Linked DNA regions of Homo sapiens: region 1 is linked to region 2. Evidence: fine-mapped expression QTL. A gene starts in region 2. The other region holds a variant in brackets. All regions are shown on one strand. Distances are between the middles of the regions.

Region 1 (3,018 bases), 310 kb before region 2:
AACCCACGCGCCTGTGGTCCCAGCTAGTTGGGAGTCTGAGGTGGGAGGACTGCTTGAAACCAGGAGGGAGAGGTTGCAGTAAGCCAAGATCGCATGCCATTGAAATCCAGCCTGGGTGACAGAGCGGAACTCTGTCTTAAAAAAAAAAAAATCAATGAATGTAAACACTTTATTAAACTATTATACAATTTAAATTTTTATTAGAGAAATGTATTATTCACATCCACAACTTCTTTTTTTTATTTTTTGAGATGGAGTCTTGCTCTGTCACCCAGGCTAGAGTGCAGTGGCACGATCTCAGTTCACTGCAACCTCCGCCTCCTGGGTTCAACCGATTCTCCTGCCTCAGCCTCCAGAGTAGCTAGGATTACAGGTGCCCGCCACTGCGCCTGGCTAATTTTTGTATTTTTTGTAGAAATGGGGTTTCACCATCTTGGCCAGGCTAGTCTCGAACTCCTGACCTTGTGATCCACCTGCCTCTGCCTCCCAAAGCACAACTTCTTAAAGTCCTTTTTAAATGAGTATAATCCATAATAAATATGCTAAAATTATTACTTATGTTTCATAGGGGAAAAAAACTATGAGAATCCTATTAACCCAAGCTATATCCTTATTATGCTTATTTCTTAAACATTTGCATGTTCAGATATGCTTGGTGAATACTGATCATTCATACCAATAGTGGTAAATTTCAGCATAATCTTTTTTTTTTGAGACGGAGTCTTGCTCTGTCGCCCAGGCTAGAGTGCAATGGCATGATCTCGGCTCACTGCAACCTCCGCCTCCTGGGTTCAAGCGATTCTCTTGCCTCAGCCTCTTGAGTAACTGGGACTACAGGCGCCCGCCACCACACCAGGTTAATTTTTTAAATACTTTTAGTAGAGATGGGGTTTCACCATGTTGGTCAGGCTGGTCTCGAACTCCTGACCTTGTGATCCGCCCACCTCAGCCTCCCAAAGTGCTGGGATTAGAGGCACAGCTCACTGCAACCTCAAACTCCTGGGCTCACATGATCTTCCTGCCTCAGCCTCCCAAGTAGCTGCAATGCAATGGCATGATCATGGCTCACTGCAGCCTCAATCTGGGCTGAAGTGATCCTCCCACCTCAGCCTCCTTAGTAGCTGAGACTACAAGTGCATGCCATCATGCCCAGCTAATTGTGTGTGTGTGTGTGTGTGTGTGTGTGTGTGTGTGTAGAGATGAGGTGTTGCTGTGTTCCCTAGGCTGGTCTCAAACTCCTAGGCTCAAGCGATCCTCCCGCCTCAGCCTCCCAAAATGGTAGGATTGCGGGCATGAGTCACTGTGTCTGACCAGCAATTCCCATGTTTTATAGAAACACCATTCTCATGCAGCCCACAGCGGCCAGCTTCAGAGCCAGGTGAAGTTGAACGTGGCCCCCGTGGCCGTCTTCCAGATGCTCAAGTCGATGTGTGCCGGGCAGAGGATGGCGAGCGAGCCCCAGGACTCTGCGGCCGTGTCTCTGCACACGACGAGCGTGCCCGAAGTCAGAGCCGGGCCCATTGTCCCTGCCCCAGTGGTCGGGAGGTGGGGTGGAGAGGGGCAGGGGCAGCACAGCGCCAGCATGGCCCGGAGTGACCACGCCTGTCTGTCGGTCTCAGCCCAGCAGCTGCAGGGCCCATCC[G/A]TGGGCTCTGCTCCCTGGCTTCGCTGTTATCCTTAGGAGGCATGTCCAGGCCAGGTGGACGCAGAGTGCGTGCCCCACGGTGCTCCAGGTGGGCTAGGGCTCCTCCTCCTCAGCCTCTCCCCACCTCTTCACTCATGCCTCCATTCCACAAAGTCAGGAATCAAGACGACTTTGGGCTAGGCGCAGGGGCTCATGCCTCCAATCCAAGCACTTTGGGAGGCCAAGGGGGGAAGGTCGTTTGAGGCCATGAGTTTGAGACCAGTCTGGATGACAGAGTGAGACCCTGTCTGTAAAAAAAAAAAAAAAAAAAAAAAAAAGATTTTTTTTTTTTTTGAAACGGAGTCTCGCTTTGTCGCCAGGCTGGAGCGCAGTGGTGCTATCTCGGCTCACTGCAACCTCCGCCTCCCAAGTTCAAGTGATTCTCCTGCCTCAGCCTCCCAAGTAGCTGGGACTACAGGCATGCGCCACCAATCCCAGCTAATTTTTTTGTACTTTTAGCAGCGACGGGGTTTCATCATGTTGGCCAGGATGGTCTCGATATCTTGATCTCATGATCTGCTCACCTCGGCCTCCCAAAGTGCTGGGATTACAGGTGTGAGCCACCACACCCAGCACCCCCAAAAATATTTTTAAAAGACAGTTTTGGGCCAGGAGCAGTGGCTCACACCTGTAATCCCAGTACTTTGGGAGGCTGAGGCAGGCGTATCATTTCAGGTCAAGAGTTTGAGACTGGCCTGGCCAAAATGGTAAAACCCTATCTTTACTAAAAATACAAAAATTAGCTGGGTGTGGTGGCACACGCCTGTAATCCCAGCTACTCTGGAGGCTGAGGCAAGAGAATCAGTTGAATCCAGGAGGCGGAGGTTGCAGTGAGCTAAGATCACACCATTACACTCCAGCCTGGGTGACAGTGAGACTCCTCTCGAAAAAAAAACAACAGCACAGTTTTGATCCTGTCTTGTGGCATTACAGCCTCCAGGAAAGTGCCGAGGGAGCAGGGCAGGCAGAAGTCTTCCTGCCACCCCCTGCCTGTACCCCACTTGGGCCCAGGTCCTATGCAGGGGCTTGACCAGCCCTGGCCAGCTTCCCTCTGAGGATTGCAGGACAAGAGTCAGAGGCAGAACTCCCAGGGTACAGAGGCCTGCGGGGCCTGAAGGGCCTCCTCTCTCCAGCATGGTGACTGGGGCTGAGCAGATGCTGAGGCTGAGAGTGTGTCATGGTGGAGCCTCCGTCTCTGCTTTCCTCCCCACATGTTGCTTCTGCTCCTGACGGCTCCCTCTGAAATGCAGCAAAACCTCCCCGGCCACTGGAAGGAGGCCCAGAGCTGGCTCCCCACCTGGAAGCATGAGGACACCCACACAGGCATCCTGAGAAGG
Region 2 (2,500 bases):
TATCTCTGATATCTTTTATGGATTGAAATTAAAGATCTGAAGGTAAATCTTCCTGATGTTTTGCTATTTAGTATAACAAACATTGTAGAAGACGTTTAAAAACTATCACTAGGTTGTGATTAAATCCAGATTACTGTTTGAAGAGAAACAATATATTTTAAAGATAAATCATTCAAAAGTTTGTTTTGCTTTTTTTTTTTCCTGGGAACTTCATATTGTGCTTTCTTGCTAATTGCCAGAGCTGGGTTGGCCTTTTCAGTCACGCATCAGAGCATAACACTTGATAAACCGTCATCCCTCCTGGTGTATGGTCTCCAGGCCCAACAGAGCAGGCAGAATGGGAGAGAAGTAACTGCCTAAAGTTTGGAAAACTTTTTATTTTGAAGTAAGTTCAAACTTCCAAAAATGTTGAAAGAATAGTGTAGTAGAACAACTCCTGTATACCCGTACCGAGATTTACCAGGTTTAAAATTTTGGAACCTTTGCCCTGTCATTATCTGTGTGTGTGTGTACGTACGTGTGTGTTCTCACAGGCATGCACATACACATTTTTTCTTCTAGACCATTTGAGAGTAGGTCTCCTATATCTTGTTCCTCTAACATTTTTTCTTTTTTCTTCTTTTTTTTTTTTTTTTTGACGGAGTCTAACTCTGTTGTCCAGGCTGGAGTGCAGTGGCACGATCTCCGCTCACTGCAACCTCTGCCTCCCGGGTTTAAGCGATTCTCCTGCCTCAGCCTCCTGAGTAGCTGGGATTACAGGCGCGTGCCACCACGCCCAGCTAATTTTTGTATTTTTAGTAGAGACTTGGCTTCACCATGTTGGTCAGGCTGGTCTTGAACTCCTGACCTCGTGATCCACCCGCCTCGGCCTCCCAAAGTGTTGGGATTACAGGCGTGAGCCACTGCACCCGGCCCCTCTAACCTTTAATACTAATACTTCAGGGAAAATACCCAAGAGCAAGGATATTCTCATACATAATCACAGGACAGTTATCCAATTCGATTAATTTAATATAAGTACAATATTTTCATCTATTCCACAGCTCCTATTCTAAGTTTGTCAACTCTCCCAACAATGGAACTGACACAATTTTATAATAGGCACACTGAAAAATGAAACCATTTCCCACTTCTAAAACAGTGTAGAAAGCTTCTGAATTCTTAGTTTGCTAGAAAAATGAACCAGTTGCCTATCCGTAAACACCAAAAATAATTTATAATCAGCAGAAACATTAGAAACCCAACTTACCTCTGTGTTTCTGAGAAGTGGCGCTTCAGAGATGAAAGCAGCCAAGGTCATCAGTGGGATTTTGATGTGAACTTTGGTGCTGGGCTGTTGCTGCATATTTTCCAAAGTAAATAAGTCCCAATCCAAACACCAGGCAACCAGCTTGGTCAGCACAAACCCCCTCAGCTGTGCCTTTGATAACTGTAGAGTGGCTTGCAGCTCCTCATCTCCAGTTCTTAGAGCTGACACTTTGAGTATATGACGGTTACTGTGTTAGCATGCACACATAGCCTTGGTGCAGGAGCAGCCCCTCTTGAGGTCACCACATAAACAAGGCGCTCTTCAGGCCTCTGGGGACCAGGCTGCATTGAGGGTAGCTGAAAGTAGAGACCATGCATCTGCCTCCAACTGTGTCCTCTCTTCTGGGATGATCACAGCATCTGCCCTCCACCTGCTCTCCAGGACTGATGTGGCTGGCTCAGCTACTAGGCGGGTGTCCCTGTCCTTCCAAGAGCTCGTTCCTCAGTGAAAGGTGGAGGAGAGAGGACAAAATTAGTGGCTTACAGAATAAGGGGATTGTGGCATGGACCTTTCTTCAGTCAAGGGTTGCTGTGTTTGTTGCCAGTAGGTGCAGCCCAGCACTCCTGTCTGTTGTGGGACAGATAGGACTATTACTGAGCAGTGCCTCCCAAATTCAGGGCCACTTAGGCATTCGTGGGGATCTCTGAGGCTGTGATACATTTTGTGTTTATGGGTGTTTGTTTGTTTGTTTGTTTGTTTTGAGACAGAGTTTCGCGCTGCTGCCCATGCTGGAGTGCAGTGGTGCGATCTCAGCTCACTGCAACCTCTGTCTCCCAAGTTCAAGCGTTCTCCTGCCTCAGCCTCCTGAGTGGCTGAGATTACAGGCGCACACCACCATGTCCAACTAATTTTTTGTATTTTTAGTAGAGACGGGGTTTCACTATGTTGGCCAGGCTGGTGTTGAACTCCTGGAGTGAAGTGATCCTCCCGTCTCGGCCTCCCAAAGTGCTGGGATTACATGCGTGAGCCACCACGCCTGGCCCTATGTGTTTTTTGAGACAGGGTCTCACTCTGTTACCCAGGCTGGAGTGCAGTGGCGTGATCTTGGCTCACTGCAGCCTCAACCTCCCGAGCTGAAGCAATCCTCCTCACCTCAGCCCTGCAAGTAGCTGGGAATACAGGTGCACACCACCATGTCTAGCTAACTTTTGACTTTTTTGTAGAGACAGGGTCTCACTATGTTGCCTAGGC

What was found.
Region 1: its variant is fine-mapped to the expression of SERPIND1 in subcutaneous fat (GTEx, PIP 0.97).

Annotation. Positions count from the first base shown.
Region 1 is chr22:21,079,367-21,082,384 of GRCh38, reverse strand. It overlaps the pseudogene LOC112268300. Among named protein-coding and RNA genes, the nearest start is that of LRRC74B, 35 kb to the right of the region's middle. The variant G/A (reference allele first, on the strand shown) is at 1,643.
Region 2 is chr22:20,772,895-20,775,394 of GRCh38, reverse strand. It overlaps SERPIND1 (serpin family D member 1), which reads right to left and starts at 1,282. Exons shown (of 5, transcript NM_000185.4): 1 at 1,250-1,282. The region is part of intron 19 of PI4KA (phosphatidylinositol 4-kinase alpha); the gene reads left to right.